Linked DNA regions of Homo sapiens: all the other regions are reported to be linked to region 1. The links are microRNA targets in miRTarBase. Many come from high-throughput screens and were not tested one by one. Region 1 holds a microRNA gene; each other region holds the end of a gene's coding sequence. Distances are between the middles of the regions.
Evidence for each region. Region 1 holds the annotated microRNA hsa-miR-6726-5p (CGGGAGCUGGGGUCUGCAGGU, at 2,833-2,853, shown strand). A microRNA usually pairs through its seed, bases 2 to 8, with sites in the 3' UTR of a target mRNA and lowers its output. Matches are read on the target gene's strand: a 7mer-m8 pairs with bases 2 to 8, a 7mer-A1 pairs with bases 2 to 7 and ends in A, and an 8mer does both.

Region 2: the mRNA of CHCHD10 is a reported target of hsa-miR-6726-5p. The part of its 3' UTR that is shown has no 7-base or 8-base seed match.
Region 3: the mRNA of CAMTA2 is a reported target of hsa-miR-6726-5p. Seed matches in the 3' UTR shown: 7mer-A1 at 864-870.
Region 4: the mRNA of RPL22 is a reported target of hsa-miR-6726-5p. Seed matches in the 3' UTR shown: 7mer-A1 at 1,530-1,536.
Region 5: miRTarBase lists BICD2 as a target of hsa-miR-6726-5p. Seed matches in the 3' UTR shown: 8mer at 4,373-4,380.

What each region holds. Positions count from the first base shown.
Region 1 is chr1:1,292,962-1,298,997 of GRCh38, reverse strand. MIR6726 (microRNA 6726) reads left to right here and starts at 2,828; the gene lies at 2,828-2,888. It overlaps ACAP3 (ArfGAP with coiled-coil, ankyrin repeat and PH domains 3), which reads left to right. Exons shown (of 24, transcript NM_030649.3): 11 at 319-431; 12 at 577-628; 13 at 885-985; 14 at 1,065-1,176; 15 at 2,365-2,573; 16 at 2,718-2,787; 17 at 2,889-2,983; 18 at 3,060-3,262; 19 at 3,444-3,551; 20 at 4,182-4,280; 21 at 4,370-4,596; 22 at 4,799-4,908; 23 at 5,065-5,175; 24 at 5,290-6,036. The coding sequence ends at 5,434. RefSeq lists an enhancer at 879-1,815.
Region 2 is chr22:23,761,774-23,766,526 of GRCh38, reverse strand. It overlaps CHCHD10 (coiled-coil-helix-coiled-coil-helix domain containing 10), which reads left to right. Exons shown (of 4, transcript NM_213720.3): 3 at 252-399; 4 at 501-693. The coding sequence ends at 520. It overlaps C22orf15 (chromosome 22 open reading frame 15), which reads right to left and starts at 3,537. Exons shown (of 6, transcript NM_182520.3): 1 at 3,196-3,537; 2 at 2,354-2,440; 3 at 2,130-2,267; 4 at 1,814-1,888; 5 at 1,625-1,734; 6 at 664-806. The coding sequence starts at 3,220. The coding sequence ends at 795. RefSeq lists enhancers at 1-217, 218-1,017.
Region 3 is chr17:4,964,011-4,969,466 of GRCh38, reverse strand. CAMTA2 (calmodulin binding transcription activator 2) reads left to right here. Exons shown (of 23, transcript NM_015099.4): 21 at 130-317; 22 at 486-560; 23 at 648-1,470. The coding sequence ends at 711. SPAG7 (sperm associated antigen 7) reads left to right here and starts at 1,650. Exons shown (of 7, transcript NM_004890.3): 1 at 1,650-1,747. The coding sequence starts at 1,663. LOC124900387 (a long non-coding RNA gene) reads left to right here and starts at 1,754. Exons shown (of 2, transcript XR_007065587.1): 1 at 1,754-3,066; 2 at 3,148-3,645. RefSeq lists enhancers at 1-572, 1-605, 573-1,250, 1,251-1,927, 1,515-2,014 and 2 more and a silencer at 1,425-1,504.
Region 4 is chr1:6,183,969-6,190,004 of GRCh38, forward strand. RPL22 (ribosomal protein L22) reads right to left here. Exons shown (of 4, transcript NM_000983.4): 4 at 1,052-2,848. The coding sequence ends at 2,704. Among named protein-coding and RNA genes, the nearest start is that of CHD5, 6.7 kb to the left of the region's middle.
Region 5 is chr9:92,711,347-92,717,382 of GRCh38, reverse strand. BICD2 (BICD cargo adaptor 2) reads left to right here. Exons shown (of 7, transcript NM_001003800.2): 7 at 1,920-6,020. The coding sequence ends at 2,229. Among named protein-coding and RNA genes, the nearest start is that of IPPK, 44 kb to the right of the region's middle. RefSeq lists an enhancer at 1-120.

The DNA of each region.
Region 1 (6,036 bases):
CTCAGGATGCGGAGGGTGGGGGCGCAGCTTCCTTCCTGATCGCAGCCTGCTGGTCCCTGCAGGGCTGGGGTGGGGCCGGCACTCTCGGGCCCCCAGCTGTGAACGTGAGGGGTCTGCCCCACGGGTTGCAGGGCTGGGGGCCTTGCTCAGGTCAAGAAGTGGCTGTGGTGAACAGAGGGTCTCTCGTCTGAGCGTGTGGTCCGTGGGCCGTGTGGCAGCCTCAGACAAGGACCTCACCCCCACCTGTGCTCCGGGAAAGCACGGAGGGTAGCAGGGCCCCTGGGGTGGGCACTGAGGGGGCGGGTTCCATCCCCCCAGGACTTCTCCTACGATGAGTCCAAAGTGGAGTTTGACGTGGACGCGCCCAGTGGGGTGGTGATGGAGGGCTACCTCTTCAAGAGGGCCAGCAACGCTTTCAAGACATGGAACCGGTGAGAGGCCTTCCTCAGGTGGGGGCGGGGTCCTTAGGCGGGGGTGGGGTCCTCAGGCGGGGGTGGGGTCCTCAGGTGGGGGCAGGGGTCACAGCAGCCCTGGGATGGGCCCCGCCTGACTCCCCACATCCCCCCACCCACCTAGGCGCTGGTTCTCCATTCAGAACAGCCAGCTGGTCTACCAGAAGAAGCTCAAGGTGTGCCCTGGGCCTGGGGCTGGGGCCCTGATGGCTGGACGCCCCACCTGGGCCACAGGGCAGACTGGTCAGTTGGGGTTAGCACAGGGCCGGGGCACTAGTGGACGCCGGAGCCGGAACAGTCAGGGAGCAGAGAGCTGGACACGGGGCTTGGGGCTCAGGCAGTCGGCCTCCGGGTCTCCAAGGTGAAGCAGGAAGTGGGTGGTCGGGGCCGGGTGGTGGCTGAGGGCAGGGGCCACAGCGGTGCCGCCCACAGGATGCCCTCACCGTGGTGGTGGATGACCTCCGCCTGTGCTCTGTGAAGCCGTGTGAGGACATCGAGCGGAGGTTCTGCTTCGAGGTGCTGTCACCCACCAAGTGAGGAGGCCCAGCCCAGGGTGGGGCGGGGGGCGTACCTGCCCACCGGAGCTGACGCCCGCCCCTCCACTGCCTGCAGGAGCTGCATGCTGCAGGCTGACTCCGAGAAGCTGCGGCAAGCCTGGGTCCAGGCTGTGCAGGCCAGCATCGCCTCCGCCTACCGCGAGAGCCCTGACAGTTGCTATAGCGAGGTGTGGCCCTTGGTGCCCCTGCCCCAAGCCCGTGCACACACACGTGCCACCGGGGATGGCCCCTGCCCCGCGCCTGTGCACACACACACGTGCCACCGGGGATGGCCCCTGCCCCGTGCCCGTGCACACGTGCCACCGGGGATGGCCCCTGCCCCGCGCCTGTGCACACACACACGTGCCACTGGGGATGGCCCCTGCCCCGTGCCTGTGCACACACACACGTGCCACCGGGGATGGCCCCTGCCCCAAGCCCGTGCACACACACACGTGCCACCGGGGATGGCCCCTGCCCCGCGCCTGTGCACACACACACGTGCCACCGGGGATGGCCCCTGCCCCAAGCCCGTGCACACATGTGCCACCGGGGATGGCCCCTGCCCCGCGCCTGTGCACACACACACGTGCCACTGGGGATGGCCCCTGCCCCGTGCCTGTGCACACACACACGTGCCACCGGGGATGGCCCCTGCCCCAAGCCCGTGCACACACACACGTGCCACCGGGGATGGCCCCTGCCCCGCGCCTGTGCACACACACACGTGCCACCGGGGATGGCCCCTGCCCCAAGCCCGTGCACACATGTGCCACCGGGGATGGCCCCTGCCCCGCGCCTGTGCACACACACACGTGCCACTGGGGATGGCCCCTGCCCCGCGCCTGTGCACACACACACGTGCCACTGGGGATGGCCCCTGCCCCGTGCCGGTGCACACACCTACGTGCCACTGGGGATGGCCCCTGCCCCACACACGTGCACACGCCTGTGTGTGGCTCCTGCAAGCTGGGTGTGTGCTGGTGTGCACTGGCATGCTGGCTTGTGCAGTGTGGATGTGCATGTGTGTGCAGGTACCATCTGCCCATGTGAGGGTGTGCACGTATACACGCGCGTGTGGGAGTGTGCTCGGCACCATCTGCCCACGTGAGGGTGTGCACACGTACGTGCGTGTGCGGGCGTGTGCTCGGCGCCACCTGTCCACGTGAGGGTGTGCGCGTGTGTGCGTGTGCGGGCGTGTGCTCGAGGGGGGGGCCATCTGCCCACGTGAGGGTGTGCGCGTGTACGTGCGTGTGCGGGCGTGTGCTCGAGGGGCCCTGGCCTGCATTGGCTCTTCTGGCTGGGGAGGAGGGGGCCTGCTGGGGAAACCATGCTGGAGCCCCTGCGGGACCGAGCAGCTCCACCCCATCCTCCAGAGGCTGGACCGCACAGCATCCCCGTCCACGAGCAGCATCGACTCCGCCACCGACACTCGGGAGCGTGGCGTGAAGGGCGAGAGTGTGCTGCAGCGTGTGCAGAGTGTGGCCGGCAACAGCCAGTGCGGCGACTGCGGCCAGCCGGACCCCCGCTGGGCCAGCATCAACCTGGGCGTGCTGCTCTGCATTGAGTGCTCCGGCATCCACAGGTGGGCCCCTGAGGGCCAGGCTGGGGGTGGGGGTTGGGCTGGAGCATCCACAGGTGGGCCCCTGAGGGCCAGGCCGGGGGTGGGGGTTGGGCCGGAGCTGGGGGCCTTGCCTCCCCCAGACTCATCCCTACCTCTGCTCTCCAGGAGCCTGGGTGTCCACTGCTCCAAGGTGCGGTCCCTGACGCTGGACTCGTGGGAGCCTGAGCTGCTAAAGGTGCGTGTGGGGCTCCTGGAGGCCACGGGACCCCGTTTGTGGGGGCGGGAGCTGGGGTCTGCAGGTTCGCACTGATGCCTGCTCGCCCTGTCTCCCGCTAGCTGATGTGTGAGCTTGGAAACAGCGCTGTGAATCAGATCTATGAGGCCCAGTGTGAGGGTGCAGGCAGCAGGAAACCCACAGCCAGCAGCTCCCGGTGAGGTGGGGTACAGTCTGGATCAGTCAGGGAGCCCCAGCCTGGGGGCACAGCCTCATGTTCCCCCCTGGTCCAGGCAGGACAAGGAGGCCTGGATCAAGGACAAATACGTGGAAAAGAAGTTTCTGCGGAAGGCGCCCATGGCACCAGCCCTGGAGGCCCCAAGACGCTGGAGGGTGCAGAAGTGCCTGCGGCCCCACAGCTCTCCCCGCGCTCCCACTGCCCGCCGCAAGGTCCGGCTTGAGCCCGTTCTGCCCTGTGTGGCCGCTCTGTCCTCAGGTGGGAGGCCATGCCCCGGCAGGGCTGGGAGGGGCTTGCCTTGGTCGGGGATGGACTCCGTCAAGGGGCTGGTGGCAGGGCTCTGGGGGCACCTCAGGCTCCGCAGACTCCCGGCGTGACCTGGGGTTCCCTGCCCCACCCCGGGCCTGTTCCACACTCTGAACACGCACTGCCCCTGCAGTGGGCACCCTGGATCGTAAGTTCCGCCGAGACTCCCTCTTCTGTCCCGACGAGCTGGACTCGCTCTTCTCCTACTTCGACGCAGGGGCCGCAGGGGCTGGCCCTCGCAGTAAGTGTGGGGTGGGCCCAGCCAGGTGGCAGGGCAGGGCCAAGGAGGCTGGCCTGAAGGGTGCCTGAGTGTGGATGGCCCTTGCCAGGGAATGGAGCAGCATCTGAAGGGGCGGGGGGCCTCCTGGCCACACAGCTGGAGGCCAAGGCCCTGACTGTCAGGGGTGAGCTGTGCAAATGTGTGTGTGGGCTGTGTGCACCTGGGTGTGTGCACACAGCGGGTGGCCCGGGGTGCTGGGGAAGCAGAGGGCGCTGCCAGCCGGCCCTCAGCCTAGGGCCCTTCTGGAGCCATGCTGCCCGTTGGTTGGGTGGAGACATTTCAGCCTGGGCCAGCCACAGACGGGGCTGGGGGGCCCACTGCGGGGGGTGCCGGGTAAGGCGGCGAGCGGGAGGGAAGGGCTTCCCAAAAGGCCTGGGCTTTAGGGGGCTACCCCTGGCACCTTTGAGCTGTTATTTGGTTTTCTCTCCTTTGCTCCTAGCCTGCAGCTGGCTCCCCCCGGCCCTGGGTGGGAGCTGGTCCTGTCCCTAGGGGTGGCCCCTGGAGGGTGGGTGGAGTTCCAGCCTTGCCCCAGGGCTCTGGACGGAGTCTGGGCCTCCCACCCTCAGGACCCCCTTCCCTGCGGACCTGCAGGTCTGAGTAGCGACAGTGGCCTTGGGGGCAGCTCGGATGGCAGCTCGGACGTCCTGGCTTTCGGCTCGGGCTCTGTGGTGGACAGCGTCACTGAGGAGGGTGGGTGGCGTCTTGCCCTCGCCCGAGGCCCCTGCCCAGCCCCTGGGCAGCCCCGGGGGTTGCTTTCCCTGACCGCCCCCTCCCCACAGAGGGTGCAGAGTCGGAGGAGTCCAGCGGTGAGGCAGACGGGGACACTGAGGCCGAGGCCTGGGGCCTGGCGGACGTGCGCGAGCTGCACCCGGGGCTCTTGGCGCACCGCGCAGCGCGTGCCCGCGACCTTCCTGCGCTGGCGGCGGCGCTGGCCCACGGGGCCGAGGTCAACTGGGCGGACGCGGAGGATGAGGGCAAGACGCCGCTGGTGCAGGCCGTGCTAGGGGTGAGCGAGCCACGGGGGCTGCGCGCAGGACACAGGTGCACAGTCGCGTTTGCATCTTCTGTGGCGCCCACACAAGGGTCGCCTGTCCGCGGTGGGGACCACGTTCGGTCCCGGCTGGGGGCGCCCAAGGCCGGGGTCAGGGTGCAGAGGCGCGGAGAGGGGCCGGTGCCGTGGCTCCGTCTGAGTTGCCCCGGCTCCCCAGGGCTCCTTGATCGTCTGTGAGTTCCTGCTGCAAAACGGAGCGGACGTGAACCAAAGAGACAGCCGGGGCCGGGCGCCCCTGCACCACGCCACGCTGCTGGGCCGCACCGGGTGAGACGCGCAACCCACGCCCCGCCCTGTGCCCCGACCACGCCTACCCCGGCCCGGCTACGCCCTGTCCGCCATGCCCTATCCGGCCACGCCCCCGCGACCACACTCGCCCCGCCCCGCCCCGCCCCGACACGCCCCTCCGACCTCGCCCCTCAGCCAGGTTTGCCTGTTCCTGAAGCGGGGCGCGGACCAGCACGCCCTGGACCAAGAGCAGCGGGACCCGTTGGCCATCGCAGTGCAGGCGGCCAACGCTGACATCGTGACACTGTGAGCGCGGCCGGGCCCTCGGGGCTGGGCGGGGCCTCCAGGGCAGGGGCGGGGCCTCCAGGGCAGGGGCGGGGCCTCCAGGGCAGGGGCGTCTCACGCTGTGCCTCCCCGTAGGCTCCGTCTGGCGCGCATGGCGGAGGAAATGCGCGAGGCCGAGGCTGCCCCTGGTCCCCCGGGCGCCCTGGCGGGCAGCCCCACGGAGCTCCAGTTCCGCAGGTGTATCCAGGAGTTCATCAGCCTCCACCTGGAAGAGAGCTAGGGCCGGGCAGGCCGGGCAGCTGCCACCCCGCCCGGCCCGACGCCCCGCATGCCCCGAAGTCCCTGGCGCCCACCCGGCCGCGGCCCTGCGTGTGACCCGCGGGTCGATACCTGGCAGCCCCAGTGCTGGGGCGCCGCGGCCCTGCTCGCCCAGGAGGAGAGCGAGGGCCCCACACTGAGTCTCTTGAAGCCTCACGTTTCCCTGGGGGGGTGCTGCATCGTCGGGTGTCCCTCACCCCACCTGGGGAACCTCTGTCTTCAGGTCACCCCTTTTCAGGGGCCTGGGTTGCTCATGTCACAAGCCACTTTTAAGGCCCGTGTCACCTGTGTCCCTGTGTCCTCAGGGCCTGTGTTACTTCGTGCCCCACTTCTGCCCAGAACACTGACCTGTTAGCTGGCTCCCTCCTGCACACCCCAGAGCCTCCTCCCAGGGCAGAAAGGGTGGCCCATCCAGGGAACCAACGAGTACCTCACTTAGTGACCCCAGCATCCAGGCTGGCGTCGCGGGTGCTGGGCGGGAGGGGCTCTGGCCTGGGTCCTCAGCCCTGGCTGGACGCGGGCGTCCCAAGGCCACGTGGCTGGCCACGAAGGTCCCCGTGCCAG
Region 2 (4,753 bases), not on the chromosome of region 1:
GAGCCGAGACTGCGCCGCTGCACTCCACTCTAGGTGACAGAGTGAGACTCTGTCTCAAAAAAAAAAAAAAAAAAAGGCAGCAGAAACATGCTGTCTGTAGCCGCCTCTGCTGCTGGATCACTCAGCCTGCCTAGGACCCTTGGGACACCCAGGCTGGGGATGTGGGGAGGGGCAGGTGGCCCCAGGTTTGAAACGCACCTCCAGGTGCCAACTCCAAGCTGATCCTGCAGCCTCTTGCACTGTACCCCCAGGCCCCCACCCCCGCTGCCCCCCAGCCCCTGCAGATGGGGCCCTGCGCCTACGAGATCAGGCAGTTCCTGGACTGTTCCACCACTCAGAGTGACCTGTCCCTGTGTGAGGGCTTCAGCGAGGCCCTGAAGCAGTGCAAGTACTACCATGGTGAGTGAGTGGACCCCGACTCAGGCGGGGAGGGGGAGAGGCCAACCCTCCTCTTGCACCTGCAGGCTGACCACCAGCCTGTGCTGCCCCTCCCTTCCCAGGTCTGAGCTCCCTGCCCTGAAGAGGTCGGTGCAGACTCGGGGGCCAGTCCTGCACCCACCTCTACCCCTCGCCGACAGCCAGACCACAACACCAGATTGTACCCAGATAGCTGGGATTGGAAGTGAGGAGGTTTCTCACCCCACAGATAACCCAAGACACAAATGTGCAATTAAAAGTTTATTTTAGACCACAGCCTGTTGTGTGCCTCTCTCGATGGCCTGTCTTCAGGGAGCTCCCTGGCTGATGAGGTGGGGTCAGGATGGATGTCTCACTACAGTGTGCAATCCATCCCCTTAATCAGGGCCCTGGGTGGGGAGGAGGAGCCCTGTTGCAATCTGCACTGTGGGTAGCACAGGACAGATTCCTTGGGCAGTCCAGAGTGAGGTGGAGAGGCATTAGTCGGTGATCCCAAGGGCATCTGACTCTGAGGGTGGAATCCCAGGATGAACCCATGGTCTCCCCCTTATCAGGGATACCTGCCACCTCTACCCTTCTTGTCTCTACCTCTGCATCCCATTCTCTGCACCCACAGCTTAGGTGCCCCTGGCGGCCTCAAATCCTGTCTGACCTTGCCCCTCTTGCTGATGCAACTTCTCAGCAATTCCAGATTCTGCAAGAGGAGTCCTGCTGGGTTGTTGTCTGTTTGCACCTGATCACACAAGGCAGAGGTCATGGCTAACCCCCTTGGGTCTGAGTCCAACTTGGCTAGTTGGCAGTAGTGTGCCAGGTCCCCAAGCCTGCCAGAATGGAAGAACAAGCCCTTCAAACCCAGTGTGGGCCGTGCCATCACACACCATGCTGCCGCCTTCATTGAGTTCATCCAGCAGTTGTGCACTGAGCTCCTACTGTGTGCCAGCCCCTATGCCACATCTGTGAAGCCTGAGGACATTCCGGCCCTTAGTGCGCTGGCACTCCCGTGGGGTGGTGGGGACCTGTCTCAGGGTACAGTGTGTTCCATCTGGGGGTATATGTGCGTGGAGTTGGTGTTGAGGGTCTGCCCCTCATCATATGTGTCTGTCCTGCAGGAAGGGATCCCACTCTGGGTGTCTCTGTGGATGTCCAAATCTGCTCTGTACCTGGCTCCCTGCCCCAGCTAGCAACTCCTGGGTGGCAGGGAGCTCACCTTTCTGGGCCTTGAAGTGGGGCTTTGCTCATGGCGGCCTCGCCGAGTGCCCATACGCTTCCTCCAGTTGTGGCCCACAGAGGAGAGGCCTGACAGCCTGCGCAGTTCCTCTGGAAGGCCCAGGAAGTCCTGTTGGTAGGGGTTAGGGAGAAGGTGTGCCCTCCCCCTGGGCTGTACCCTGACACTCACCTGCCAGCTCTGGGTAATGGTCATCCAGGTTCTCCAATAGGGACTCATAGCGGGTGGAGGCCATGTCCTCTCCCTCTGTGACATGTGGAGAGACGATGAAGGACACCTGACTGGCCTAATGGTCCCTACTCTGCCTCTCACTCTGGAACTGTTTGCTAGTCCAGGCTGGGAGCAGAGCATTGGGTAGGGATGGATTGGGGCTAGGTCCCCAGCCGAGGTGGGAGGCCGGACAGGGCCTTGGGTGGTCTATGGTCTGCTATGCCCCCCTCTTACATTCTACCATAGCTGCAGGGGAGAGAACCTTGGGCCACCTTACTGATGATCCGAACGAGGACATATATGGCTCGCTCCTTCAGTAGGGAGTTGCCCATGGTCTGGGCCCGGGAAGCCCCTTCCTTCAGGTCCTCCTCCAGGCTCACTAGGTTGCCATCCTCAGCCAGGAGAGCAATGGTCGCTGGGAGGACATGGAGAGAGACTGGGCAGGGCTGGCACCCCTGCCTGGGACCCCTCAGCCCCTCCTTCTCCTCCCTGTCTCCTCACCATCTGGGGGCAACCCTGCTTTCTGCCTCAGGTGGGCGGTGAGGTTCACCAGCCTGCAAGAGGTGTTCACCAGCACCGAGCAGCCAGCTGTGGAGAGGGGCAAAGGTGAGCCTGTGAGATCTCTTACCTTCCTCCAAATCGGGGTCCTCTGTCTCTCCCTCCCATCTCTCCCTTTCCCAGAGCTGCGACTGGGCCTATGGGCTAAGACTGTGCCCCGGGCATAACAGCTCCAACATCTGTTGCTTAAACTGCCTTGGAGAACCCTCCATCCATCTCCCATGTGTGGTGACTTTTCTCCCATGTGTGGTGACTCCCAAGTGTTGGTCTCTTGAGTCCTGCAAAGCACGAAGTGGGCGCCAGCCCAGCCTCCTCCCGGGACCCGCCCCCACGGGACCCAGCCAGTCCCCGCCCTCCGCACCCACCGGCTCCTCTCTTCCCTTCCGCTACCGCACAGGGCCGACCCGCCTCCAGCCAGAGGCACGGGGACCCTGCAACTGTGGCTAGAGTTTCAGGTGTCTGATGCACGCTGAAGCTTGAGGATCACGGATTGAATGGCGAAGAGATTGTGCGGCTTAAAAACCTGCTCCAGGGTAATGCGGCGGTCTCTGGCCGAGAGGAACCCTTGTGAATGAGCAGGACTCAGCTCGGGTTTTCCCTTTAAGGGACTCGCTCCAGGTGCTGGCTTCGCCTCCTCACAGAGCCGCTTCCCCGACGACCCCCGCCATGTGCACCACCCCCCTTTCCCGCCATTGCCTCCCCACCCACCGCAAGGGCGGAAGGAAGCACGCCTCTGAGTGTGCTCATCCCCCTATCCGCCTACCAAGACAGGGGACCCCACTTACCCCCAAACATCACCTTGATAAACATAGCTGCAGCGGGTGAGGGAGATGTGGGGGGCTTTGATCCCCCAACTCTCGATTCCCCAACTAAGGAAAAGCGTGGAGCAGAGACCTGCTTCAGGGCCGGGCTCTGGAGGGAGAAGTGGATGTGTGAGTGTGGATGGCTGGGTCCCAGGGCCAGGCCCCTGCTCAGCCACCTCTGTGGTTCTGCTGCTTCAGCCTAGCTCAAACCCTGCAGCTAGTCCAAGACTCCTGGCCTCCTCTTCCTCCCCACTGAGCCCTGGGCCACAGCAGCTCCCCTAAGCTTCCAAGCTGGTCTCCATGGCAGTGGGGGCGGAGACATCTAGGCAGGAAATGCCTTCCTCCCTGTATCCGTTAACGGGGCCCATGGGGGAGAGGTGACAGAAGAAGTGGGGGCTGGCATTCCCTGAGGCGGGGAATGCCATCATTGGGATTGATTTTTTTTAGAGACAGTCTCCCTATGTTGCCCAGGCTGGTCTCGAACTTGGCTCAAGCAATTCTCCAGCCCCAGCCTCCCACAAGTGCTGGGATTGCAGTTGTGAACCACTTGTACAGTAAAGTTCACCCTTTCTGGTGTTTTAAAGTTATGCCAACTCTCATATAACCACCACCACAGTCAAGATACAGAACATTTCCATCACCCCCAAATTCCTTTGCCCCCTTTGTACTCAGCCCTAGTCGCTTCCAGGTCCATAGCAGGTCACAAGCACCTCCTTGTTAGCACTGGCCACTAGCTAGTCCCTCACACCGGTTCTCACCGTCATTTCCTGTCTTTTATTTATTTATTTATTAAGTTTATTAATTATTATTATTATTGGTGTTTTTTAAATTTTTATTTTTTGAGATGGAGTCTCCCTGTCACCCAGGCTAGAATGCAGTGGTACGATCTCGGCTCACTGCAACCTCCGCCTCCCGAGTTCAAGCGATTCTCCTGCCTCAGCCTCCCAAGTAACTGGGACTACAGGTGTGCACCACTACACCTGGCTAGTTTTTTTTTTTTTTTTTTTTTTTTTTGAGACGGAGTCTCGCTCCCTCGCCCAGGCTGGAGTGCAGTGGTGTGACCTCGGCTCACTGCAAGCTCCGCCTCCCGGGTTCACGCCTTTCTCCTGCCTCAGCCTCCTGAGTAGCTGGGACTACAGTCGCTCGCCACCACGCCCAGCTAATTTTTTTTGTATTTTTAGTACAGACGGGGTTTCACCATGTTAGCCAGGACGGTCTCAATCTCCTGACCTCGTGATCTGCCCGCCTCGGCCTCCCAAAGTGCTGGGATTACAGGATTACAGGCGTGAGCCACTGCGCCCGGCCTTTTTTTGTATTTTTAATAGAGATGGAGTTTCACCATATTGGTCAGATTGGTCTCGAACTCCTGACCTCAAATGATCCGCCCATCTTGGCCTCCCAAAGTGCTGAGCCACCAAGCCTGACCTATTTATTTTTTTTTGAGAATGAGTCTCGCTCTGTCAGCCATGCTGCAGTGCAGTGGCGCAATCTCGGCTCACTGCAACCTCCGCCTCTCGGGTTCAAGCGATTCTCCTGCCTC
Region 3 (5,456 bases), not on the chromosome of region 1:
GATGATTCAGTCTTTCCTTGAGTGTGTGGGTTACAGAGAGTCTTGCATCAGCCTAACTTGGGTGAGCCTCAGGGCTTTGGGTCTCCGTCCCTCTATTTCAGCCCCTGTCCCTCCTCCCCACCCCTGCAGTTTGCACTCTATAAGAAGATGACCCAGGCGGCCATCCTGATCCAGAGCAAGTTCCGAAGCTACTATGAACAGAAGCGATTTCAGCAGAGCCGCCGAGCGGCTGTGCTCATCCAGCAGCACTACCGCTCCTACCGCCGCAGGCCCGGCCCTCCCCACCGGACTTCGGCCACCCTGCCTGCCCGCAACAAGTAGGGCCCAGCCCCAGCCCTCTGTGCCCACCCACTGCATCCACGCCATTCCCCCTTACTCATCCTCTTGATCATCATGCCTCACTGCCATTCCCTGCCTAGGGTTCCTGGGGGGGCCGAAGGCATGCGATGCCTTCTGTGAGGTCCATCTTTTGTTTCTTTCACCAGAGGCTCCTTTCTCACCAAGAAGCAGGACCAGGCAGCCCGGAAGATCATGAGATTCCTGCGGCGCTGCCGACACAGGTACTCATCCCTTCTCCCCCTGGGCTTTTGCGTTGCCACCCGTCGTGATCCGCCAGTCTCCTCTGACTCCTATCTTTCTCTCTGCAGGATGAGGGAACTGAAGCAGAACCAGGAGCTGGAAGGGCTTCCCCAGCCGGGACTGGCCACATGACCTGGCCACCGCCTTTCTCACCACCCTGGGGGCGCCTCGTGCAGTCTTAACAGGGAGAGGGCTTTCTGGGGCAGGGGGAGCCCCTGTCGGCAGCTTTCCTGTTCACCTTTGTTGGAGCCCTCTGTAGGCCTCCTCCCTCCTCCCCACGCCTTGCTCCCACACCCCTCTCCTCGTCCCTCCTGGTCGTGCCCCGTCTCTTTTGGTCCTGGCTCCAGAAAACCCGCGCCCCACATACCTGCATCTTCCGCTGTGACCTCCGGAGCCCTGCCTGCCCCTGCTCCCCAGCTCCTCCTGCCTGCACCCGACTCGGCCCCCTCCTGACTTGCCTTATTTATTTGTTCGACGCGTCTCTGAATGTATCCGCCTCGGTTCCCACCACTGCCTTCGCTGCGCACGCCCCTCGTGTTTCAGGGCTGACCGTGTCCCCACCCGACTCCGCATGTTTGCGTCTGTTTCCTCCCTCTCTGGCCCTGTCTTACCCCATCACCCGACTCTGGCCACTGACCTCAGGGCCGAAGGGGAGGTGGTGTACATAGGAACGCGTTGCGGAGTCCGCCCCGTCCCCCGAGGGGAGGGGTCTTGTACATACTGTAACATACAGAGTATAGTGAAGAATCTATTTAAGGCGCCGCGGGGAGGGCTGCACGGCCGGGCTTGTGGTTCTCTAGCGCGGCGGGGGCCTCCTGCCGGCTCCACGGGCACTTTCTACTTGTGCATGGGCTTGGTTTATACGAATTGCCATTAAACATCGCTGCACCAGCCAGCCTCCGGCCTCTGTCTGCGGGGGCGGGGCGGGGCCTAGGCCAGCTGGAGGCCGCCATGCACCGCGGGCCTGGGATCTGCGCCCAGGCCAGGCGGGCCCAGGGTTTTCCGCCTCCGACGTGTTTCCGGCCTTAAAGGCATTCCGCCCTTCCCTTTAAGACGCACCGCCCCCTCTCAGTCACTCCCAAGATGGCGGACCTACTGGGCTCCATCCTGAGCTCCATGGAGAAGCCACCCAGCCTCGGTGACCAGGAGACTCGGCGCAAGGCCCGAGGTGAGGATCCCAAATTCACAACCGCCTTCCTTCGCCCGGTTCTCGGGACCATACTTCTCCCTCTTTGGACGATGCCGCCTCCTCAACCTTGAAAGACCCCTCACAGGCCCCTTCCGAGACCCTCAGAGTCCCTAAAAGGGCTGCTGACACGCCCGCTGTTCTTAGCGGACAGTGATTGGCTACCTGAAAGATAGCGCCAGCCTCCTGCCTCTTCTCCCGACCCTGGCCTTCCGCAGTCCTTGTTTCCCATTAGCCGGCCGTCCCGCCTGTCCGCTGCTGACCTGGTCTGATTGGTAGGGTGCCTCCAACCTGCCGCATTCCTGCCCCGCTCACCTCTAGCTCTATTTCGATTGGATTTAGGACACGCCATCTACTGTGCCTTCATCTCTATTGGCTATCTCAACTTAAAGCTCTGCCTCCTCAGGCCTGTTCGACCTTCCTTCGAAACCACCCCAGCCTGCGAATTCCCATTGGTTGCAGGGTCCTCTGTGTGTTCTTGCCCCTCCTGCTTAATTTAACCCAGTCCCTTCTGCCTCCCTCCGACAACCTTTTTCCCATCCGTAGCCTTAAATTCCCGAGCTGCCCGGGCGGATCGTAGTGTTGATTGGAGGGATGAGAATACCCGCCGGGTCCGATTGGCCACTGTCTCCGCCTGCGTTCTCGGAGTAGCTTCCCTGCGGGTGGGCTGGAGTTCGGCGGCCGGCGTAGGGCGCGGCCCTGCAGGGCGGTGGGAGCCTCCCCGGGGCTGCTCGTGTTGCAGCTTGGGATGATACTGGCGGAACGCAGGACCCCAACTCCCAAACCTGCGGACCTTGACCACGGACGAGCCCTGTCCCAGCTCCCCACGTGCCCCAGGGGGACCAGAGCAGGCAGGACGCCTTCCAAGTATTCAAGGGCCGCTGGTTGCCTACGCTTCGTCCCCTTGTTTCTTGAACAACCGTTAGGGACCAGGGGTACCCCTCAGGGAGGCCACAGTCCGGGGCTGGGGCGCTCATTGATGCAGTGATCACACGTAAGTTTAATAACCAACTTGATAAGTGCTCTGAGAGAAAAATAACTGTGAGAGCGGCCACCTGAGGTTCTCCCCCAATCTGCAGTGAGCCGAGATCAGAACAGGTAATTCCGTAAATGAGAGAGAGAAGCAAAGCGTTACAGGCAGAAGAGTCTATTTGAAATCTCTGAGAAAGGAGGAAGCATGATGGGAATGGGGAACTGGAATTCTCTAATGCTCCGATGACTGTCTAAGTGGGGGATCACCCGGCATTGACAGACTGGGAAGCTTAAATGAGTCACTCGCCTGAGGTCACATGGTTAGTTTGGTAAGTGGCAGGGTTTCAAACCCAGGTATGACTGGGCTCGAAGCCTATGTTCTTGACCATAATCTTGTGCCACTTCTCTAGATGCAGAGAAGACTCGAAAACCAGTTAAAGAACAGTCAGTGGGGCCCGGCCTTGTAGCTCACACCTTTAATACCACCACTTTGGGAGGCCGCGGCGGACGGATCGCTTGAGCCCAGGAGTTCAAGACCAGTCTGGGCAACATGGAGAAACCCCATCTCTACAAAAAATACAAAAATTGGCCGGGCTCACGCCTGTAATCCCAAAACTTTGGGAGGCCAAGGCGGGCAGATCACGAGATCAAGAGATCGAGAGCATCCTGGCCAACATGGTGAAACCCCGTCTCTACTAAAAATACGAAAATTAGCTGGGCGTGGTGGCGCGTGCCTGTAGTCCCAGCTACTCAGGAGGCTGGGGCAGGAGAATCAGTTGAACCCAGGAGGAGGAGGTTGCAGTGAGCCGAGATTGCGCCACTGTACTCCAGCCTGGCGACAGAGCGAGACTCCGTCTCATAAATAAATAAATAAATAGATAAATAAATAAATAAATAAATAAACATTAGCTGGGCTTGGTGGCGCGCTCCTATGGTCCCAATTCTCGGGAGGCTGAGGTGGGAGAATCGCTTGAGTCTGGGAGGTTGAAGCTGCAGTGAGAGGTGATTGCGCCACTGCACTCCATTTTGGGCGATGAAGTTGAGACTGTTTCCAACAACAAAAGATGAAATGCGCTGATGGTCAGTGAGGACAGAGGGATGAGAGCTCATAAGCTGTCAGGCCCTGGGGCTCCAGAGGATAACTGAACAGTAGATCAACAGGGTCCCTGCCCTCCAGGAGCTCATACTATGCTGAAGGAGACAAAAAAAAAAGAAGTTATGATACGTTAGTTCTCTGTCTATGCTGCTGGGTGTCTCAGCCAAAGGAGCTTGGAGCCCAGGGGAAGAAGTAACTGACTCACGGTAGATCTCAATGTTTGCAAGAGGAGGAAAAGCATTCCAAGCAGAGGAACAACGTGTGCAAAGGCATGGAGTTATTTGAAAAATGGGGAGAGGGCTCATGCCTATAATCCCAGCACTTTGGGAGGCTGAGGCGGGCAGATCACTTGAGGTCAGGAGTTCAAAACCAGGCTGGCCAACATGGCGAAACATCGTCTCTACGAAAAATACAAAAAAATGGGCGGGCGTGGTGGCTCACGCCTGTAATCCCAACACTTTGGGAGGCTGAGGCGGGCGGATCACCTGACGTCGGGAGTTCGAGACCAGCCTGACCAACATGGAGAAGAAAGCCCATCTCTACTAAAAATGAAAAAATTAGCCAGGTGTAGTGGCACATGCCTGTGATCCCAGCTACTCGGGAGGCTGAGGCAGGAGAATCACTTGAACCCGGGAGGCAGAGGTTGCAGTGAGCCAAGATTGCACCATTGCACTCCAGCCTGGGCAAAGAGAGCGAAACTCCATCTCAAAAAAAGAAAAAGAAAAAAAAAATTAGCCGGGTGTGGTGGTTCACACCTGTAATCCCAGCTACTCGGGAGGCTGAGGCATGAGAATCACTGGAACCCGGGAGGCAGAGGTTGCAGTGAGCCGAGATCGCGCCACTGCACTCCAGCCTGGGCACACAGCGAGACTCTGTCTCGAAATAAATAAATAAATGATGGGGAGAGGTTCAGTGCAGCTGGAGAGGATTCAGATCCTGGGGAAGAAGGAGGCCTTAAAGATGTAAAGGATTTGGCCGGGTGCGGTGGCTCACGCCTATAATCCCAGCACTTTGGGAGGCCGAGGCGGGTGGATCATGAGGTCAGGAGATCAAGACCATCCTGGCTAAAACGGTGAAACCTTGTCTCCACTAAAAATACAAAAAATTCTCCAGGCGTGGTGGCGGGCGCCTGTAGTCCCAGCTACTTGGGAGGCTGAGGCAGGAGAATGGCGTGAACCCGGGAGGCGGAGCTTGCAGTGAGCGGAGATTGCGCCACTGCACTCCAGCCTGGGCGACAGAGCGAGACTCCGTCTCAAAAAAAAAAAAAAAAAAAAAAGATGTAAAGGATTTGAAATGGCAAAAGAGAAAAAAATTTCAGGCTGAGGAGCAGGAGTAGGAAGAAGCATGCACCCAAATCTCTAGAGGTAGTAAAATCACATCGTGGGGAAGACAGGCAAGCATGGAGGGCCCGGGTTAGAAATTCTTCCTCCTCCTCCAGAGGCAGAGGGGATCTGGCGCAGAGGCAGGATCTAAGGAAGAGGAAGAAAGTTAAATAAGACCCTTAGCCAGGCGAGGGGACTCACAGCTGAAATCCCAGCACTTTGGGAGGCTGGTCTTGAACTCCCAGCCTCAAGTGATCCTCCCACCTCGGCCTCTCAAATTGCTTGAGAAGCTTGAGTCTCT
Region 4 (6,036 bases), 4.9 Mb from region 1:
TGTCCCACATCCTAGGTCCCCCTCTCCTGTGGGAGGTCTTGGTTTACAATACTTGACAAGTTTAAGGGTCTGAGTCCCATGTACAAATGGAAAGTGAAATCAGGTGTCAACACCAAATTCCAGGCTCCCCTGACATCAATGACTTCAACAGCCGGACCATTATTCCCCATCACCAGGGTCCTTATCACCCTCCAGGAAATCAAGTGTCCCCTAAAAAGGCTGAGCTCTAGATAGCCCCAGATATCAACTGTCTTAAGACACTTGGTATTATCCAACTTCCTCACTTTCCCCGTGTTTCTGACCACCTCTGTGCTACACACCATTCATGAGCAAAGTTAGGACCCACGTATTTCAACACCTGGCTGCTCCTGAAAATGTATGAGGACAACAGTCCTCAAAACCCAAACACTTCACCACTGGAAGTGCCATGGGAAAAGGGGGATCAGAGGCTTTTTGGAGGGAAAACATGAAGCCTTTAGAAGTGACTAGTTCGTAGCACTTAGTGACATCAACAAACCTCATTTCCTCAGCTGTACCAGCACACTCGAGGGAAGGGCGTGAAGGTGTTGTGTAACTGGCATTGGCTGAGACGAGACCAACCTCCTGTTTCCGGACTCTTATGAACTTAAATCACGGCTTGAAACTCTCCACGACCCCAGTCAGCCCCTGTGCCTCAACTATTTTCGATCAGGCAAGTGAGGTGTGAGTCAAAACAAAGGAAACTGGTCTACAGTGTGCTTTGGGCGCAGCTGGTGTCATGGTTGTGATGGAATTCAAGTTGACACTACCTATTCCCCATCAGAAAACGGCATTTGCTGGCAAAGTTGATCCCCAGACTCTGGATCTGGAGAAATTCTACACAGAGTTCAGTGACAGCCAACCCCTGAATCTCACTGCGGCAAAACAGCACAACTAAGGGAAGAAAAGTGGAAATAAAGGACATCTTTTCTTCTAAGCCTAATAAAGACCAACGTAACTGTTGGTACAGCAACTAATTCGTGAGGACAAAGCTTTTCTTCACATGCCAGTCCTTAAAAAAAACAAAGCCTCGTACAGTAAGAGTAGCCAGGTGTTAGCCACTTTAATAGAAAATATGATCAAAACTCGATTACAAGAGTTCAAAAAGACATAGAAAACCAGTGAGTTTCAATTTTATTACAAGTTTTCAAATCTGGGACTAGTTTCTTTTTTTCTTTTAACTGAAATGCCAACTTCAGCCCAGGGTTTTTTCACAACCAAACTAAAAATGACTTACTACATGGGAACATCAATGCAACAAGTAGAATTTGTAAACTCAAGCCACAAACTTAGTTAATAATCATGGTTAAGGGACATTGCCAAAGAGCAACTGATGCCTCAGTGAAGTTTGAAAGAAACTCTGCTTTCTGTGACGGCAGAGAAGAAATATGCAAGCAATTCTGCTTCAAAGAAATTTGCATAGAAATGGAAAAATGCCAGAGCCTTTAACACAAGTGAAATTGCAAAGCCTCAACACGTTCAACTCAATCCACAGAGCACCAAATGTTTAATGGGAGCCAAGGTAGGACTGAGCATTGAACTTCCAGCTATGCAACTCGCAGGGCACAATTTCAAGTGTGGAAACCATCTGTAGGCAAGCTCTTTTAAAAACATGAATTTTAGACACCGTAAATTCTAATGCAGACACTTTTGCATTACTGTTTGAATTTCAGAAGGGCACCACAAGGCACCAGAGTCTTTCAAAGTCACTCACAGCAACAATTGCATTTTTTTCCCAGCCTTGGTAGCCCCTTTCAGTTGTCTAGCCTCTGCACTGTGGCACACCACTGACATTAAATCCAGTCATGGCCTAAGTGGCATGAGGCAGCTATTTCCAGGGCACCTCCCACCTCCTTGGCATGGGAGGCTTCCCAGTCACTCCTCCTTCGTGTCCCCTCTTTCAAGAACCTCCAGAGCTCTTGGCATCAGGGGCCCCCATTGCTGGGCCCCACACGGGAGACCACATCTGGAAGCACTATTCCTACAGCTCCCTCTGCTGGAGACGAAAGTGACAGTTTGTTGCAAAGACCTGTAGAAACATTACTTACACGTTCATTTCTGTACACATTTAGTTAATTTAGAACCTGGGACTTTTACAATCGATTCCCCAAACCCCTTTATGGCAGCAACACTGAAGGAGCACAGTTTCTCTCTCTAGGAAGAAGAGGATTAGCAGACATAATTGTGTGCGTCAAGAGAAATTTGTAATCAAAAAATGAAAGTAAGACGAATGGCCCAGAAACCCGCATTTTATTGACAGTCATTTTCCCACAGAGAATCTTAGAAAGATGTCGCGTTTTCTTTTAATGAATGAGAGAAGCCCATTTGTATCCCTGAATCATTGAGAAAAGCAACAGATACAACTGACAGTCACACTTTTTAAAATCAAACAGTCACTACCTTCAGCCCACACCTCCACACCCGCATCTGCCTCCCCAATGGCTGTCAGTTCGGTAAAGTCACCCTCTCCTTCTACTCTGGTATTACCACGAGAATTGAAATTTTTAAGCAGAAAAAAAAAGAAGTCAAGTTACAAATAAATGAGTGGCGAACCAAGGGAAGCCCTTTGACTATGATTTCCAATTTTCTGTTCAATCCACACTGCAGAGATACAAGGATAAACCACCATTTTGGTTCCCAAGTTTTATTCAAGAACTCATACAAAATTTTCCAGATAAATGAAATTTAATCCTCGTCTTCCTCCTCTTCTTCGTCCTGGTTAATCTGGAAGTAACGTAATTCGTAACTCTCTTTGCTGTTAGCAACTACGCGCAACCAGTCACGTAGATTATTCTTCTTCAAATATTTTTTGGTGAGATATTTCAAATACCTGCAGAGAAAGGACACAAGAACTCCACTAGACAGTTGGTGCTTGCATTCTAAAACATTTTAACATTTATAAAACCCAGCACTCAAAATCATTACAATTCAAGGTGTTTTCCCAAGCCTCAAAAATGGCAAAGGTAAGGCAAATACACCCAGCCAAGGCTCTGAGTTATCAGCCACGTACCATCGACATCGGCAGTAACAATTAGAATAGCCTCAGCATGGTGGCTCAGGCCTGTAATCCCAGCGCTTTGGGAGGCCAAGGCAGGCAGATCACTTGAGGTCAGGAGTTCGAGACCAGCCTGAACAACATGGTGAAACCCCATCTCTACTAAAAATAAAAAAATTAGCTGGGCGTGGTGGTGCACGCCTGTAATCCCAGCTACTCGGGAGGCTGAGGCATGAGGATCCCTTGAATCCAGGAGGCGGAGGGTGTAGTGAGCTAAGATTGTACCACTGTATTCCAGCCTGGGTGACAGAGCAAGACTGCCTCCAAAAAAAGAAAAAAGAAAAAAAACTAGGCCAGGGGCACTGGCTCACACCTGTAATCCCAGCATTTTGGAGGGCTGAGGCAGGCGGATCATGAGGTCAGGAAACGGAGACCATCCTGGCTAACACGATGCAACCCTATCTCTACTAAAAATACAAAAAATTAGCCAGACGTCGTGCTGGGCGCCTGTAGTCCCAGCTAGTCAGGAGGCTGAGGTAAGAGAATCGCTTGAACCCGGGAGGCAGAGGCTGCAGTGAGCCGAGATGGCGCCATTGCACTCCAGCCTGGGCGACAGAGCAAGACTCCATCTCAAAAAAAAAAAAACAAAAAAAAAAAACAAGAGCAGATAAGTAGATAAGTAGATGTACCAGTTGTCCATGAAAATGCAGCAAACACCTATAACATGGTTTTTAGTGACCACTGGAGAAAGATAACATGATAGAAATTTACAGTTAAGTACGCAACCTCAATACCTTTTATGCAGAAAATAGTGGGTTTCCAAAGAGCTGTAAGCGCTGCGCACACATCACCTCACGGAGTCAAACCCCCTTTTGAGGTTGTCTGGATGATGAGGACTGCTTCTTAGGGGTGTGCACACACTCGCTCCTGCTCACCACCCAACACACAGGGACAGAATGCCACCCTGCCACTGCGCTCACGCCCAGAGAGCACAAAGCCTTTCAGTCAGCCTGCCCAATTGCTGCTTTAGCCAGGTGAGAGCTAAACACTCACCACAACAGGGATCATTTAAAAACTCTTTTATTTATTTTTTTAGACAGAATCTCCTTCTGTGGCCCAGGCTCACTGCAACCTCTGCCTCCAGGATTCAAGCAATTCTCATGCCTCAGTCTCCCATGTAGCTGGGATTACAGGTGTATAACACCATGTCCAGCTAATTTTTGTAATTTCAGTAGAGATGGGGGTTTTGCCATATTGGCCAGTCTGGTCTCGAACTCCTGGCCTCAAGTGTCTGCCCACCTCAGCCTCCCGAAGTGCTGGGATTATAGCTGTGAGCCACTGCGACCAGCCAAAACACTCATTCTTTATGGAAAGGCAAAAACTGGCTTTTGTGCCCAACACCCTAACTACATAAAGATGACCTAAGGGCTGGGCACAGTGGCTCACGCCTGTAATCCCAACACTTTGTGAGGCCAAGGTGAGAGGATCCCTTGAATCTAGGAGTTCGAGACCAGCCTAGGCAACATAGCAAGACCCTGTCTCTACACAACATTTTTTTTTTTAATTAAAAAAAAAAAAGATGAAGTGCACCACAGTCTTGGCAGCTCTCTCACCGGCTTGCTTCCGTGGCCCTGAGGCTATTCCGAATCTTCCCAAGCCATAAAGAGGGAATTTCACAACACACAAACCCACAGCAGAGCCAATTCATCTACCCAAGCTGTTTCTCCCACAGTGAAAGGGGATCCCTGCTACTAACCATCTCTTCAGACCATAGCAAGGATTACATGAGATGCTCAGAGAGATCCCTGGCATTTTTTTTTTTTTTGAGACGGAGTTTCGCTCTTGTTGCCCAGGCTGGAATGGCACGATCTCCGGCTCACCTCAACCTCCGTCTCCCGGGTTCAAGCAATTCTCCTGCCTCAGCCTCCCGAGTAGCTGGGATTACAGGCATGTGCCACCACGCCCAGCTAATTTTGTATTTTTAGTAAGAGACGGGGTTTCTCCATGTTGGTCAGGCTGGTCTGGAACTCCCGACCTCAGGTCATCCACCCGTCTGGGCCTCCCAAAGTGCTGGGATTACAGGCGTGAGCCACCGCGCTCAGCATGGATCCCTGGCATATTCACAGGACCCAAATGTCATGAACCAACAGACTCACCATCTCCAAAAAAGGAGCACTGTGACAGTGCTCCACACCAACAAAGCAATCTCCACACCAACAAAGCAATCTCCACACCAACAAAGCAATCTCCACACCAACAAAGCAATCGCCACAAAGTGTGAAGATCTCAATTCAACTGTCCACTTTTTGCTAAGCAAAGATAAATCAATTTGGTCATTCCATCTAAAAAGTATACTTTTGTCAATTATTTCCACCATATTGTATTCAGATGAGGTTAATTCAAAATTTCAGGTGGTTGAAATGTTCCCTGACATAGCCGGACATGGTGGGGCACTCGTGTAGTCCCAGCTATTTGGGAGGCTGAGGTAGGACTGTTTGAGCCAGGAGATGGAGGCTAGAGTGAGCTATGATCACCCCACTGCTCTCCAGCCTTGGTGACAGAGTAAGACCCTATCTAAAAAAAAGGAAAAAAAAAAATCCCTAATAGTACACTGGGGAAAAAAATCAGGTTAAAAAAAAAAAAAAAACCCTGTACAGGCCAGGCAGGGTGCCTCATGCCTGTAATCCCAGCACTTTGGGAGGCCGAGGCGGGTGGATCACCTGAGGTCAGGAGTTCCAGACCAGCCTGGCCAACATGATGAAACCCCCTCTCTACTAAAAATACAAAAAATTAACCGGGCGTGGTGGCAGGCGCCTGTAATCCCAGCTACTCAGGAGGCTGAGGCAGGAGAATTGCTTGAACCTGGGAGGCGGAGGTTTCAGTGAGCTGAAATCGCGCCATTGCACTCCAGCCTAGACAAGAAGATCAAAACTCGTTTTCAAAAATATAAATAAATAAAAACCCTGTACAAATTCAGAGACAGAAAAAGTTCTAGATTCGGGACACCTTGAACCTTTCAGGAA
Region 5 (6,036 bases), not on the chromosome of region 1:
TTCTGTGGCGCCGGTTCCATTTTGCTGTGAATGAAACCGCAGCAGGCCCAGGCTTGTCTCTGCTTTGCATATATGGAGACTGAGGGCAGAAGGGCTGAGGAGAGCAGATCCTGGAGTGGATGGGCCAGAGTTGCATAGCTTCAGGGGATGCTTGGGCTCCCACCCCTTGAATCCAACATTTACAGGGACTTAACTTGGGGCCAACAGGTGACAGAGGAGTCCTGGCCTTTCCTCTCATGAGGTATTTGCCCCCAAGAACTTGGCCATATGGCACAAGTGTGTATTTATGTTTGTAGATTCAGAAGGAAGATTATCCTCCTGGCTGGAGCAGGTCACTGCTGGGGTCCACAGTTCGGGTCCCACCTCTGTGCATAGCCCTGTACCTCTGCGTCATTGTGACCGCTGGGTACTCACCTCCCATCCTCTACTTTGCCAATCTGGGGAGGGTGAGGAGAGGGCCGGGGCTTGGAGGAGACCAGCTTTCTTTCTTCCTCTGTGGAGGGCTCTTAGTAATGGGCTCTGAGGTGGGCTGCCCCTGGTGGGTGCACACCCCTCCCTGGCTGGGACTCAGACCCCAAGGCTGGGAATCGAGGCTCCCTAAGTGTTCACAGGCCTCTGTGGGGCAGGTCCTGGTTTCAGCATCTTCCCAGGTGCCCCCTGACAGGTACCGCTGTCTTTCACTTTCCAAAGATGGGTAGCGCCACCTGCTGGGTCATGTTGGGATAGCACCATGGGGTCAGCCCTGCATGGGGGACAGCCAGGCCCACCATGGGCCCAGCAGATAACCTAGATGTTTCCTTTTTATGGGTGAGCAAGCTGAGGATCTGAGCTGGACAGGGTGGGAACTGCATGCACATAGGGCCTGCTTCTCTCAAGCCTGGTGCCGTGCACTCCCAGTTTCTCAGTATCCCTGCAGGACGTGCCAGAGCAGGGTACAGACAAGGAAGAGTCCCAGGATTTCTCTGGAAGCGTCCTGTCTTCCTGGGGCTTGGGGAAAAAATCCCACAGTTTCTCAGTATCTGGCATGTAAACCCTACCTTTTAAAATTTGTTTTATTTAAAAACTTTTCAGATGGAGCCAAGATTTTGAATCTGCAGGGATCACAGCTCTGTGTGCCCTCAAAAGGGTGGGCAGCAGAGTCCTTGGAGAGGGTGCTATCCAAGGGCCGGCTCCTGGCAGGTGGGGACAGGCAGAGTAGGGTGCGTGTGGGCAGGGTGGGGCTGTGCTCAGTGCCTGCACAGCCTCACCGCCCTGGGAGCCCTGGGATTTAACCCGCCCTTTGTCTCTACCAAGCCCCACCCATATGGGACATGTGGAAGAAGGGCATCCAGGGACAGACCACACCCTCCCACAGCTCCGCACCCGGGTTTCAGGATGAAGCTGTTGATGGCGTCCACACACGTGGTTCCTTGGCTCTGGTCAGTGCTCAGCACAGACTGACGAAGCATCGACCTTGGGAACAAGCCCAGTCCTGCTTAGATTTACATCCACACCCTAGAAGCCATGGCTTCTCCATGTCTTGATGCCCCAGGCCACCTCGAGGCCTTTAAGCGGGGAGAGCGCCTCCTAGAAGAAGCCCAGTCGCTGAGGGGCATAGCCTGTTTGTAAGCACTACATGCAGCTGAAAGAGCAAAGCAGCCCCTCCCCCACAAAACCACAAAACTCAAGCCAGCCTCATAGGGCTGCCCTGCCTGGGCCCAAGCCTCCCTCTCACCCTTATCAGGGATTTGTCCAAGCAAAGCCTGTGCTAAAATAAGCCAGAATAATTCTTCCCCAGCCACACCCTCCAGTCCAGAGGCCACATTGAAGGATGGCTCTGGTATAGGGCTGTCAGAGGGCCGTGCAGCTTAGCCCTGCCCTGCCCTGCCCTCCTCTGCTCGGCTCTGCCCGCCCCTCAGTCATGTTTTTGGTACCCACAGGTGTGACGAGTACATTACACAGCTGGATGAGATGCAGCGGCAGCTGGCGGCTGCTGAGGACGAGAAGAAGACGCTGAACTCGCTGCTGCGCATGGCCATCCAGCAGAAGCTGGCGCTGACCCAGCGGCTGGAGCTGCTCGAGCTGGACCATGAGCAGACCCGGCGTGGCCGTGCCAAAGCCGCCCCGAAGACCAAGCCAGCCACACCGAGCGTAAGTCACACCTGTGCCTGTGCCAGCGACAGGGCCGAGGGCACCGGGCTGGCCAACCAGGTGTTCTGCAGCGAGAAGCACAGCATTTACTGTGATTAGGGGCTGTGGGGCGCCGCACGCTGCAGCTAACATCTGCTTCACCTCAACTAACCCAGCAGCAGCGGGACGGCGGTGCTAGGTCAATCTTAACGTGACTAATGCACAGAGGGTAGGAGTCTAGCCGAGGCGCCATGGGGCGTTGCATCAGCAGGACACTTGTGAGAGCTTTGTGTCGCTTCTCACTCCTCAAAGCCCCCTCAGGAGCACCCAGTCCTCAGCTGCTCTCTTAGGTGGGGGTCAGAGGTGGGGATAGAGCTGCACATTCTTGCAGCAGATGTGTGATGAAAGCATCTTCTAAGCCCTGCGCACCCGTGGGGAAACCCAAGGGAGGAGTCCTGGTCCTGCTCCCTCAGCACCCAAAAGGGGCAGAACCTGAGTTGAGACTTGCATGTTCCTCGCATGTGTCTAATGTCAGCACTAGAAAGCAGTTTTAGGAGGTTCCAGCCTGCAGCATAGGTACGACCTCAGAGGATGGCTTTGCACTTGGCATAGTTTCATGGAAAGGAGTACGTTGTAGTTTATGCAGTATCTGACTGCAAATCATATTCAGGAAAGAAGTGCAGAATTTCTTCCCCAAGCCCAGAGAAGAGCAGCCCTGAGCCCCTGTATTCTGCTGGCCAGACACACATGGCACAGACACAGCTGACCATAACCCAGGAATCCAGAGCTCGGTTTCTCATTTCTGAGATCAGGATGCTTGTATAGTGGCCTGTGAGGTGACAGATTGGCAGGGCCCAAGGCCCCAGGTTTTCATTTTTCATGAGAAAAGCTTTCCAAGTGCCTGGCCAGACCTTGGTCCTTAGTGCAGAGCCCGTCCTTTTGTACTTGGGGTGACCCCAGCAGCCAATTATCCGGCCTTCCATAGGGGGTTCAGTCCCAAAGACATGGGGCTTTGAAAACCCTAGCCTGAAGTCTGAGCCACCAAGGGCTTGGCTGGGTTGGACACCCACAGGTGTATCCAGAGCCCAGCCCGGTGCTGGGAAAGCTTTGCATAGGGCCAGGGCCACTTGTCAGGATTCACAGGTAGGAGATGTTTAGGTCTCTTTATTTAGTGCAATCTGGGGGATGGCAACAGAGAAAGAGGAAAGGTAGCTGTAGGGTTCTCCCATTTCCAGAGGCTCCATCCACACCTGCCTTCCCACATTCTGAGCAGAACTTTTCTCAGTACTTTTTTCCCGATCACCCTGTGGGACCAGCTGGACCTGAGGCTGCAGTCTTCTCTCCTGCAGGCTGCTTGCCTTGTCTCTCATGCGGAAGAGGCATTCGAGTTACCTGGTGAGAGACCGTGTTGCCCCCTCCCACAGCTCTCTGCCCTGCGCGTTCTTCCCTTTGGTGCCGAGTATGTTTCGGTCCCCTCCAGACTCCAGGACACGCCCATGTATGTCCCCTGCGTGTTCATCCTGGGCCCAGATCCCCCTGCCCCAGCAAGACTCGCAGTGGGATGGCTGCTGGCATGCCCACCCTGCATGCGCTTTGCCCTCTCCTTGCAAGCCTGGCACATAGCTTCTCTCCATACTCCTAAGGGACTTTGCAGACACCCAAGCCACTGGGACCCCTGCTAACACATGCAGGTCTTCTCTTCTGCCAACTAACGTGCTCGCGCCCTCCCAGCACGTGGAGAGCTTCAATTGTCAGATAAACAGGAAGCGACAGATGACCGCTTTCTAACGCTCTCTTTTCTCCCGTTTTCAGCTGTAGAGTAGCTGCCAGGAGGACTTGGCCACCCGGCCCTGTCACACTGCAGCCCCTTCCCCTTCCCTCTCGTGGCCCACAAGGAGGAAGGAAGGGCAACCTAAAAGCCCACTTAGAAACTTTTTGGATATGCCACTGCAATTCTTTTCAAAATAGCATTCCCCAGGTTTTTAATGGGAGGAAAAAAAGCTTTAATGTTGAGCATGCTGCGAGCTGCTGCGTGGAAAGGCCTCTGTATGGGCCGAAGACCCTTCTTCCCTGGCTGCCAGGCTCGCCAGGAGCCCACTGGAAACGCCCACCACGGGGGCTCCTTGTTACACATGTTCTTTTTTTATCCGATCAACCTGTGCACTTTTGATATTTTGATATTATATTTGCTTCCTTAATTCCTCGCGTAGAGACGGTCTCAGGTGCCGTGGTCTATGCTCGTGGTCCTGTAGCTGTCCGCCTCAGCTCCCACCGTGTTTGTCTGGTGTCAGCACGAGGCAGAGCTGTGTGCTCCATAGCGTGTAGCTTTAGACTCGGAGATGAGTGCTTTGACCCAGCGAGGAGCTCAGCTAAGTGTATCCACGCTGTGGTTCAGCAGCCTTTAGATCATACGGCATTGTGGTTCATGTTTGAAATTACAGATTTTAAATGCCATGTTCATTAAGAAATCCAGGGTATTCAGATTCTGGGGTTTTTCATATTGTATTATTATTATTCTTAGGAATAGTTCAATGTAACAAGAAGAAAACTTGACCTTTGCTCTGGTTAAAACAGTAATAGGCACTTGAAAAAAAAAGATAAATTATTGAATGAGTAGTATTACCTACAAATTCCAGAATTTTCTGGGTTTTAGGACGTTGTGAAGCATGACTGATTAACAGAATTTTATACAACTGTACCAATAAAATTCCAAATTGGAATTGTTTTGTTACTCTGGTTGTTGTGCCAAATTGTGGTACACTTAGAAAATTCTACAGTCGTCGATTTTTAGGGTGTTCTCTTTCAACACCTTTTTGTTAGTAATCATTGCCAGTAGTGCCTTCATCAGTTAAGGGAGGTGTCCCAGCACAGATCATTCTCAAAAGCGAGCAGGGAAGAGCTAGTGGGCATGCTGAAGGCCAGCGTGGACAGCAGGTGAGGCAGGTGCTCCTCACACCCAGACCTGGGCATCTTCATTGAGGGAAAGAAAACAGTCATTGTGCAAAATTCTGTTAGTCAGTGATTCTTTACTTGCAAATTCAGGGGCTTAGAAAATGAAAGCAAACACAAAACCTTGAGTGTGCTTTGGGAACCAAATGGACCTTCTGGGACAAGCTGAGCAAGCTGTATGAACGCCACGTTTGTGAAGAGCTGAGGGTATCAGGAGGGCCGACGCTGTGTTGGCATGCGCAGTAGGGGATGAGGGTTAGCCATAGTATTCTTTGCAAATGTGAAAGCGAGACATTATATCTTCTCTTGCTTGGTGTAACTAATCACTGTTAATTTCAGGAAACAGAACTCATTAAAACTCCTTAGCAAACCAGGTCTACATCCTGTTTTGTTTGCTGAGTGAGGTTAGTGGGAGTGGTCAAATTGGTACTCTTGGAGGAAGAAAAACTGTCCTTCCTTCTCCAAAAAAGGAAAAATTATAATAATATAAATGACAAAAATAAAAGAATTCTGTTTCCTGGAATAAGCATTTCTTATTCCTAGTTGTAGGGACTCCTATTTTTACCTTCCGTTACAGTGTTGATTCATAAGAAATATTGTTACATTTGAGATAACTTCATCTGTATGGGGTATTTATTTGCAATGATGTCTGAGTACTGTATTTTTTCTGTGCATTACCTTAGTGTCAGAATGTTGGTCTTTATTTTAAAGTCATATGCATGTTCTCCTGCCAAGGAACCTTTACACAGACCCAAACAAAAAAATAATAATCAAATGCCTTCAATTTCTGAGAAAATGAGGCAGAGCATGGAAAAGGAATAGGAAGGAGAAATTAATTGAGATTTTCAGGACACAGACATATGATGTGAATGCCTACAAAGCCAGTGCGCATAGGAACAGTGGGCCTGGGTAAAGAGTCACATTGGTAGGACCAATAAAGAATAATAAAAAGACAAAGCACATGTTTGTTCTCTGTGG